Linked DNA regions of Homo sapiens: region 1 is linked to region 2. The links come from fine-mapping of genetic effects on plasma protein levels. A gene starts in region 2. The other region holds a variant in brackets. All regions are shown on one strand. Distances are from middle to middle.

Region 1 (5,373 bases), 45 kb before region 2:
CAGTCCCTCTCTGTCCCCCTCCCACATCCCTTCCCCAGATATTGGCACCTGGACAGCCAAACTGCTCCTCCGAAGGGGGCTGGGGTGGTGGCTGGAAGTTCTGGTACCACTCCCCGGATGAGGTGCTGGAGCTGTCATCAGCCGGGGGCCCTGCTGGAAACCCCCAGAACCAGTCACCCTCTGCCAGCACACAGCCACTTCTCAAGTTGCCAGAGCTGGGGGGCCCACGTGACTCACGAGAGCCAAGTCCCTAGCTTGGCAAATGACAAAGTGAAGGCCCAGAGATGGGAGATGTGTCCAAGGGCACACAGCGAATGGCTGCGGAACTGGGTAGAATCCTGACCTCAGCCTGACTCAGGGCTCCCAGCTTTATGCCTCCTCCAGCCAGGCTGGCTATGGGATGGGGGTTTGGGGGAGGCACAGCTTACCTGAAAAGGCTGGCTGGGTGCCGGCCAGCTCCAAGTTTGGGGGCTGCTCCAGGAAGGAACTCCTCTCTGAAGAAAACACCTGGGGGTTCCATGGAGGCAGCTTGCTTTTGGGACTATTGCAGTAATCCTCCCCTGAAGAGGTGCTCGACTCACTGTTGCTCCTCGGGTGATACTGAGGGCCCAGGGATGGCGGGTCTGTAATGCAGTGTCCAGGGTTGGCAGTTGGGATGTGGGAGGCATGCAACTCTTCAAGTCCTAAGGCAGGAAAGGGAGAATGGTGACGAAAGAAGCAGTGCAGCAAGAGGGCTTTAAGTCAGACTTCAGAAAGCACTTACTGCCTATAGGATTTGTGAAAGTCAGGAAAGACTCATTGAGGGAGGTTCCTGCTGGAAGGTCTCAAGCTGAGCTGAGCTACTCTCTGGAGGTGGGACTGCCATTCACACCCCTTCCCATCCTGACTCACCTTCCTCCAAGGGTGGCATCTGGAACCTGCTTTGCTGGACCTCCTCATCTGTGACCCGATGCCGCTGGGAATCTGCAAGCAGAGGCGGTGGTGGGGAGGGGTGAAGGCTCAACCTCATCATTTAGGAGCCTGGAGAAGAGGCTGGATTTCCCGGGGCCTGGGTAGGCTGAATAGGGTGGGAGGACAACTCCGGAGGCAGAGAGGGCTTAGCATTTCCCATCAAATTCCAGGTTCATATCCCAATCCAGCAGAGCCTTCGCCTTAATCTAGCCTGGGGACAGAAACTCTAGTGCCCTACAACCCCCCAGCCCCCAGCCCCAGCTGTCCCTCCTGCTACTTAGAGAGGTATCAAGAGTCTTGGTTCTGTCCTTGTGACCTGGCAGCTCTGGGCAGGAGAAGGACAGATGTTTGCTCCTTCAAGAAGCCTTCCTAGAGTGAAACCCAGATGGTCTGGAATCACTGCATCACAGGCTCTGTGGCACCTTCACGTTTCAGAATCAGAGATTTATAGAGTCTTGAGGATATGAGTGTCTGGGATCTTGGAGTCAGCTCTTTTGAACCGGGTACCACTGACTTTTAATTTCAATGTTATAGCACTGTGGACTCTCAGTCTTGCATCTTATATGCCTGGGCTCGGAATCTCAGGTTCGACAGACACTTCATCCCTGTGGCGCCCAAACACTGGTCCACAGGCCAGAAGAAGTGGAATCATCCGTGTCCCACCCCCAGAAGCCCTGGGTTAGCAGGCGGGGCAGGGACGGCTGTCTGTTCCCCAATATCCATTCTGGCTTTTATCTGGACACAGCTGCCCAGGACAGAGCCTTCGTTTCCCTGCCTCTCTTGCAGCTAGTGGGTTTTCGTTCTGGGTGCTGGGTTGTGAGCGGGAATCTGTGGCCATCTCCAGCATCCCATCGTTCCCTTGCCCTTGCCTGGAATGTGGACATGGAGGTGAGCCATTCTGGACCATGTAGATGAAGGCAACATCTTAGGGACTGCACAGCAGCAAGAAAGAAGGGGCCTGGGCCCCTGCCAACCTCTCAAGACACTGTCATTTGGAGCTTTCTGTCACACACAGCCAAATTCTCATCCTGACTGATAACATTAGGTGTGGGGAGGGGCTCAGGAATTTTTGACAAGCTCCCAAGTGATTCCACAATAAGGTGTGGGACGCTCTGGTCTATTCCAACCTCCCAGCATTGCCAGGGAACTGCCTTCAGCGTTATCTTTCCTCTTCCTATCCCCAGAAGGCAATGAAAAGAGCTGGCTATGAGGCACAAGCTGGCAAGAGCGTGGAGGTGAGGAAGTGAGTGGGGCTGATGGGGTCAGACAGGGCAGGATGGGACACGGAGGGATATGGCATGCGAGAACCCCTGCCAACTGTGTCTCTCATCCGCACTCCCCCGCTCTCACACAGAGAGCCATCTTCAGGTGAATGTCAAAGGCCTGGTCTTAAGACCTTACGTGGCCAGAGACAAACATGGGAGAGACAGAGGTCAGAGTGGAGATGTCCTGAGACATCGAGATGACCCCAGGGTCACAAAGCACGGTGCAAACGTCAGTGTAGGACCATTTACAGTCAATCCAGTGGGTAACCAGGGGGATTCTGTCTGCATCATGCAGGGGTTACTAGGTGGGACTACTGACCTGACGGTCCCCTCGGGGCCCCCTCCCAGATTCAGGTAGGTGGGCCCTCGGGAGCCCGGCCAGGCACTCACTGTAGAAGGTGGTCAGGGCCACAGGAGGCTGGGCGCTGAAGTCATAGTGCTCATAGTCTGAGTCCGAGCCAGAGTCTGAGTCCTCAGGGGGCGGGGCCTGGACCTGGATGGGCAGCATGAAAACTGGGGAGAGAACAGAGTCGAGGGCATGGCAAAGTGGTGGGCGGAAAGGTGTAGGGAGGGATGGTAGAGTATGAAC[G/A]GCAGAGGTGAGAGGCAGAGTAGCAGGGGAGCACCAAGTAGCCCCCTTTTTTTTTCTTTCTTTTCTGGGACAGGGTCTCACTCTGTTGTCCAGGCTGGAGTACAGTGGTGCCATCACAGCTCACTGCAGCATTGACCTCCTGGGCTCAGGCGATCCTCCCACCTCAGCCTCCCGAGTAGCTGGGACCACAGGCATGCACCATCACGCCCAGCTAATTTTTGAATTTTTTGTAGAGACAGGTTTTCACCATGTTGCCCAGGCTGTTCTCAAACTCCTGGGCTCAAGCGATCCATCCCCCTCGGCCTCCCAAAATGCGGGGACTACAGGCATCCACCAGTGTGCCCAACCTGGGTAGCCCATCTTGTACAAGCCACCCAGTCTGAAGTTTCTAGGCTGCCTTCGTTCATTTCCAATATGGAGAACTAAACATTTATTTAGCAAACGCTTAACACAGCACTTACTATATGTGAGGCACTATTCTAACACTTACAAGTATTACCTCATTTAACCCTCATGATAACTCTGTGAAGTGGGTACATTATTATCCCCATTTTGCCTTGGAGGGAACTGAGGCACAGACAGGTTCTTACCTGGCCCAGAGCCGGCAGTCTGGCTCTAAACCTCTAGACTGTGCTATTCAGTGAGCAGCTGCCTTATGCTAAGCCTTATGCTAGATGCTGTATTCACATTCTCTTTTCATATATATGGACTCTCTGTGCAAAGGATATTTATAATATTTGGCTGAGTTTTGTATTGGTTTTTATGTCATTGAACTCTTTCCGATAAAGGTGATTGAATACATTCATAATGCAAGGTGATTAAGCTCAAATTCCTCTGCAAGAGGTATAAATCCATATATCATAAAGGATGAATGACTGAACCTTTTCTTTTTTTTTTTTTTTGAGACAGAGTCTTGCTCTGTCGCCCAGGCTGGAGTGCAGTGGCGTGATCTCGGCTCACTGCAACCTCCGCCTCCCAGGTTCAAGCGATTCTCCTGCCTCAGCTTCCCAAGTAGCTGGGATTACAGGTGCACGCCACCACACCTGTCTAATTTTTGCATTTTTTGTAGAGACAGGGTTTCACCATGTTGGCCAGGCTGGTCTCCAACTCCTGACCTCAAGTGATCTGCCCACCTCAGGTTCCCAAAGTGCTGGGATTACAGGCGTGAGCCACTGTACCCAGCCCCAATTTGTTTTTTTGTTTAGAAAATATGAACTATGAAATAAAACCACATTCTAGGAGAATCTTGATGGGGCTTCGCAAGGCCAATTGGGCAGGACATTGATAGGGATGATGATATCACAAGCCTACTAGCCAACTAGCAGAGCAAAGCAGAACAGAGCTTTCCTCTGAGAACCAAGATCTAAAACGTGCTTTGCCTGTATTTGTCCAGAACTCAAAACTCTATAGAGTCCTAGCATGACTGAACTGGAAGGTCATCTGCCCTTCAATGTCCAGGGACGACTTGAGCCTGCTCAAGGTCCCAGGGCCGGGAGTGGGCTGGCCCAGATCTCATCTCCAGCTGTGTGTACGTCTTGGACCTAAGTGGTGCTGACCTTCCAGAAAGCTCACCCTTCTTGTCCTCCCCAGCCCTCCCACACCCAGGATGGGGGACATCCTACCTTCTTTGGGGATGGTGATGGGGACCGGTTGATAGCTATTGCTCCCTGCCGGGATGGTGGTGGGTAGGTGCTGGTGGTTCACCATTACGGGGAGGGCTGAGGGAGGGGAGGCAGAAATTCTACAAGTCATTTTTTTGCCCTCTCCCAGTCTACCTGGTTCCGTTCTGTTCTCATCGACACACCACCCTCCTCATTCCCCCAACACTTGCAGGCACATGTGCGCGCGCACAAACACACACACAAACACAGGCACACACACACATGCACAGTCTGGTTCTCCCCGCTGGTGCGTCCATGACTGCTGGGCATGCTGGGAAAATCCTTTCCACCTTGGGGATCTCCCCAGGGCCAGGGCCGGGTGGTCATTGCTGGACCACGCCACTGCTGCTGGGGTTCTGCCAAGGCTCACATCCCCCTGGGATGGCCATGGCTCCCAGAACCTTGCACTTACCATATTTTCCTTTAATTCTCAAGAGGATGAAGGCTATGAAGATGAGGGAGCCAAGGAGGAGAATTCCCAGAACGATGGAGGGGATGAGGAGCATTAGCTCCCGAGATTCCTTGTTCTCTATTTTCACTGTCACAGAAGATTCTGGAAACAAGAATTCCAATTCAGGAAGAAAGAGGAATGGGCACTCACCCTTCTTCTTGCCTTTCCATTCTCTGTAAAGCTGACCTGCTTCCCTTTTTATGTTATCTTCCTCCTTGCTTCCTTTTTCCAATTTTCTCATTGCTTTTAAGTGTGTGGTGTATATTAGGCGCTCAATAAATGCATATTGAATGCATGAGCAATTGATTAAATGAATTACTGCCTGAAATAGAACTCTGGCCACCAGGCTGCAGAGATCTATCTGTCTGCTAGCTCTTCAGTATGTAGTCTTTGTTCAATAGACAACTATTGAGTACCCGCTGTGTGCCTGGCCCTAGACCCTGGGGCTACACATAA
Region 2 (5,317 bases):
AAACTCCAGTTCCCAGAGCCGAATGGCTTTCCCTGAACCAGTATGAGGCCACAGGCTCGGAACACATGCCTGGAGATCAAGGCAGAGAGGAGAGCACTCCCTGCCCAGAGTCTCGCGACATGTACCCAGTCCTCCAAACCAGCTCGATGCCCCCTCCTGACTGGGTCTTCCTGGGTCTCCTCCATCACAAAATGAAAGCACTTGGCTCTCTGGCTGCAAGGTGGACCCAGACTCCCCTGGCCCGAATTCTGTTTCCATACCAGTCTTCCCAAATCCCAAAATGTGAGAGCTCGATGGGGTCAGGATCTCTTGCATCTCCAGGCCCCTGCCCCGCTCTGGCCAGCTTGGACCCTGCACTCAACAGGGGCCAGCAAGTATCTGGGGAGCACAGTCTAGTGCCCCAAACCTTCTGGCCATCTGATTCCCTGGCCCAGGTGGCCAGGTGCCTTGACACTTGGGGGCAGCTTGAGACGTGGGGGTGGCCTTCATGCTCGCTTATGCCCTAGACTACCCCAGCTGGTTGTGCTGAGGCCATCAGCGCCTGGTTGTCCAGAACTCTCCCTGGCTTCCCTGAGTCCTGTTTCGGGAGGTGCTCTCCTGTGATTGGCCTACGCCTGCTGGACCCCAAGCCTCAGCTTTGGCGTTGAAAGTACCACCATCAGTGGTCCTGCCTCTCTGGAAGGTGAACGGTTCCTTCTTAAGAGTTGGCAAGAAATAGGAAATGGGGGAGTTCCTGAGCTTAAGGATGGGAGAGGCACCTCCCTCCTCACACCCTAGGGACCCATTGGTAAGGCACAAAGCATGCTTCCCACATTCTGTCACTCCAGGAGGCTTCCAGGCACAGCCCCAGCCCCTCGAGGGGCTCCTGTGTCCTCTCCTAGCCCCAGATGCTGGACCTCCCTGGTACCTGAGTGTAGTCTTGGCTAAAAGATCCTAGAAAAGTGACCACAAGGAAACAACCAGAAAGGGGACTGAGAGGGCCGGACCCGGCTCCTCCAGCACCAGTGGCAGGAGATGAGGGAAGGGGGCCTACCTGAGAGGGCTGCCGTCAGCAATCCAGTGATCCCGAAGAAGAGCCACATGTCTGGAGCTGTCTCTGGCTGCTACGCGTGGCTGCCTGTGGGAAGCACCATCTTGGGGCCGGGAGGTGGACACGGCCGTTGTGCGCCCCTGGCGCAGGTCTGCTCTACCCTTTGCTGTTCTTGTTCCTGTGTCTCTCTCTGCTCTCTCCTCTCCGACACGCATGCGATCAAACCCAACCTGTGAGTGTCTCACGCCTGCTTGTTCTGCTTGTGGTTTTGGTCTGCAGGAAGCTGGGCTGCTGTTACAGGGGCTGGTGGGGAGAGCCCCAGCTGCCTGTGCTGGGAGCCCACCCATCCAGGCTGCACCCCAAGAGTCACGGAGCCAGACACACGCATGCACACGCATCCATGCAGACACACTTCCCCGAGGGTCTTCTAAGAAGAAGGGAAGTGGAAGAGCCATGCCTCATTTCTGGTGGCCCAGAAGAAAAAATTGATAATGTAGTAGCTGCTCAATCAGTACATATTGGAAGAGGGAGTGAATGACCCATTGCCTGTCCCGGTCCGTGTAATTTGGCTCTCTTGGATTAAATCCTGAGTTTTATCTTAACCTTAGGTGCAATGGTGGTTGGGAAGGAGGGTGTGGTCTTGATGCACTTTTGGAGATAAGAGCCTAAGTCTCCCCTCAGAGAAATATAAATTGGGAAGGGCCTGAGAGATGGCCATCCCACAAGTCCTTCTACAGGGAAGGGTGCCAAGGCCTTGTGGGAGCCGCCCCGTCAGATGGCACAGTGGGGCCAGCTATCCCATCTCCAGGTACCAGACTGGGCATGCCTCCGTGGGAGTCAGGCATGGGAGCTGGGTCTACAAGGCTGAGCAGGATTTTGACAAACAGCAATCATGGGAGGCCTCTGGGCCAGAAGGAATAGCAGGAGCAAAGGGCTGAAGGAAGGAAGCCCAGGGCTGCCTGAGAAACCCCGAGTTGCCCCATTGCACTGCAGCAGACTGACGCTATAGGAAGAAGGCAGGGGCCAAGCGTGTTTAATTCCCATGGTACTCCCTGTGGAGCATATGGTAGGAGGTGAATAAATGTTTATTGAATGAGAAAAGGAATAGATAATTTGGTTGTCCAAGCAGGGCCCTGGAAGTGGTCAAATCCAGAAGGGGTTTGGTTCCAAATCCTGGCCCTGCCTCAATTGGTCCCATCCCAGGTCCACCTCTCCTGGCCCTCCACTTCCTGCATCCTTGCTTGTCTTCATTTCCCCAACATGTGGAATGAGGAGCGGTCCTCCTCCATTGGGTTCGGTCCTAAATGTGGGTGTATGCATTTGATGCGGCAAGTATTAGAGCCACGGGGAACCAGGCGCCCCCAGAGTGAGACTCCTCCCAGTCCTGCCCCAGCGCCGGCACCTGCTGCCGCTGCCCTCTGGTGGAAGTCACTGGCAGCACAGGTTTGCATGGGTGCCTCGAGCTCCCAGATGCAATTCCATTCATTTACACAGTCTTGGTGTGCAGAACTCTGGACAGGACTCTGTGGAAGTGAAAGAGAGGAAACCATATTCCTGCCCTCAAGGAGGATGAAGTTCACACACACACAAGTGACCAAACCACAGGCCAAGGTAGGACACACATAATGTGAGGTCTCCTGGTCCTAAGAGGAACCCGTTTGAAATGGGCCGGGAAGGATGGCTAGACTCCATTTCTGACAATATGGTAGACAGCAGATGCTGAAGAATTCTCCTAATACAAAACACCACAAAAATATTGTAAACCATCTTTTAAAATGTGTAGCTGAGGTGGTGAGAAATGAAGAAAATCATCAGAGATCAAAAACGACAATAAGCCTGGGCAACATGGTGAAACCCTCTCTCTGCAAAAGGTGCAAAAAATTAGCCAGGTTTGGTGGCACACACCTGCGGTCTCAGCTACTCAGGAGGCTGAGGTGGGAGGATCGCTTGAGCCCAGGAGGTCAAGGCTTTAATAAGCCAAGATTGCACTGCTGTACTCCAGCCTGGGCAACAGAGTGAGACCTTGTATATGTTAATATATAAAGACAACAAAAATCCAAAGAGATCACAGCCAGCAGAGAAGTATCTGTTGATCCAGTTGACCAAGAGCTTCAGTCTTATGAACATGGACAAAAGTTAAAGCTGAGAAACAAAATCGAAGTGAAAAACAAAATCCAAAATTTCTGCCTTAAACAAAGAGCACTGAAATACAACATCCACAGTGGAGAACTCGGAGAGAAAAATTCCTTAAAGCGAGCTGACACAGAGCTTGCCCAACTCAGTATGGACTCTGAGTGGGAGAAAAATAAATGTCAACCCTGAATGCCCCTCACCACAAGTCTACCCACTAATAGGCCTGGAGGTGAAACTCATGGTGACTTTGTGGCAAAAACAACCACACAAAAAACAAACAAACAAAAAGATAAGATAAGAATTTAAAGTAAGGTAAATAATAGCTCCTTAGGCACGTGGCAGAAACAAATGATAAAAATTGTCTCTGGAGTAACTCATCCTATATTCATGACTCAAAGAAATCCCACAGAAAAACTCCCATGGAACATGAGTTCACATGTTTGTAAAACAGAAAAATCATAAAACACAGGACACAAGGTGCTTTAGGTGAGAGGAGCACCAAGCAATAAACTAAAAATGCAGACCTTCGAACACATCTCAGATGTTGGAATTGCAGTATATATAATATAAAATAAGGATGTTTCATATGCTTCAAGAATTAAAAGTTGGTAATTGAAAGTATAGATAAGGAACAAGAGACTATTTAAAGTGACCAGGAAGATTGAGGGAAAAAAAGCAAGCAGTTATGTAAAAACATAATTTTTGAAAATAGAAGCCCAGTGTACAGATTAAACAGTAGATTAAGGCTCAGCACTTTGGGAAGCTAAGGCAGTCTGATGGCTTGAGGCCAGGAGTTCAAGACTAGCCTGGCTAACACAGTGAAACCCTGTCTCTATTAAAAATACAAAAATTAGCCAGGTGAGGTGGCACATGCCTGTAGTCCCAGCTACTCAGGAGGCTGTAGCACAAGAATTGCTTGAACCCAGGAGGCAGAGATTGCAGTGAGTCGAGATTGTGCCACTGCACTCCGGCCTGGGTGAGAGTGAGACTCTGTCTCAAAAATAAATAAATAAATACATACATAAAAATAAACAGCAGATTAATATGGCTGAAGAGACAACTACTGGGGTGAACAATAGATTTGAAGAATTTACCCAGGATGGAGCACAGGAGGACAAAGTGGTGGAAAATATGAAAGAGGCTAAGAGACATAGACAAGGAACAAGGATTTAAATATGTCTAATTAGAGTTCTAGAAGAAAATGGAAAATTTCTAGACTTGATGAAAGACACAATCCTCAGATTCTGGAAGCTCCCCCAACCCAAGCATGATAAATAAAAAGAAATCTACACCAAACATTTTTGGTAGCAAAACTGCTGATCACTAGACAGAAGATGGATGAATGATGAAGTAGATGGGCAGCTAATATGTCAATACCAATAACTAAAGCCAGAAGGCGATGGAACAACATCTCAAAGTACTAATAAAAAAATAACTGTCAACCTTGACTATCTTTCAAGTATAAGGTTTAAAAGACACATTTTCAGATGAAAATTGAGAGCATTTATAGCTAACAGACTCTCACCTAAGGGAATTCTAAAGGATGTTCTTCAAAAACAAGAAAAATAATCTCAGAAAAAAAAGTCTAAGATTCAAGTAAGAATGGTGAGCAAAGAAATATGTAAACACAGAAGTGGATTTAATAAGCACTGATAGCATAAAATAATTACAAAAATGTCCACTTTGTGGAGTTAGAAAAAAATGAAATAGGCTGGACATGGTGGCTCATGCCTGTAATCCCAGCACTTTGGGAGGCTGAGGTGGTTGGATCACTTGAGGTCATGAGTTTGAGAACAGCTTGGCCAAAACGGCTAAACCCCATCTCTACTAAAAATACAAAAATTAGCCAGGCGTGGTGGCTCGCATCTGTAGTCCCAGCTATGCAGGAGGCTGAGGCAGGAGAATCACTTGAAACTGGGAGGTGGAGGTTGCAGCGAGCCAAGACTGCACCACTGCACTCCAGCCTGGGCGACAGAGCGAGACTCTGTCTCAAAAAAAAAAAGAAAAAAAAATTAAAAAAGAAAAAAAAAATGAGATAAAACTAAAGAACCATAAAACAATAACAAATTGGTGAGGAGTGATCAGAGTGGGAAAGGTCTATTATTTGGTGGGAGGGCAAAATATTGACTAGCATTTGACCTTGTTCAATTAAAC

Direction of the effects. Positions count from the first base shown, and alleles are read on the strand shown. Strength reflects both the effect of a copy and how common the allele is.
For the plasma level of the protein whose gene starts at base 1,268 in region 2, G is the high allele of the variant in region 1 and A is the other (weak association).

What was found. A credible set is the group of variants that fine-mapping cannot tell apart. PIP is the chance, under the fine-mapping model, that this variant and not a neighbour inherited with it causes the effect. Protein levels are from antibody-based Olink assays in UK Biobank. Linkage for the fine-mapping came from a reference panel and not from the study's own genotypes, which makes the PIPs less certain.
Region 1: its variant is the best candidate, but not a certain one, in a credible set for the plasma level of the CD6 protein (UK Biobank, PIP 0.76).

Annotation. Positions count from the first base shown.
Region 1 is chr11:61,013,069-61,018,441 of GRCh38, reverse strand. CD6 (CD6 molecule) reads right to left here. Exons shown (of 13, transcript NM_006725.5): 7 at 4,879-5,019; 8 at 4,428-4,523; 9 at 2,607-2,729; 10 at 892-963; 11 at 429-683; 12 at 49-153. Among named protein-coding and RNA genes, the nearest start is that of LINC02954, 40 kb to the left of the region's middle. RefSeq lists an enhancer at 4,848-5,373. The variant G/A (reference allele first, on the strand shown) is at 2,806.
Region 2 is chr11:60,967,631-60,972,947 of GRCh38, reverse strand. CD6 (CD6 molecule) reads right to left here and starts at 1,268. Exons shown (of 13, transcript NM_006725.5): 1 at 1,034-1,268. The coding sequence starts at 1,082.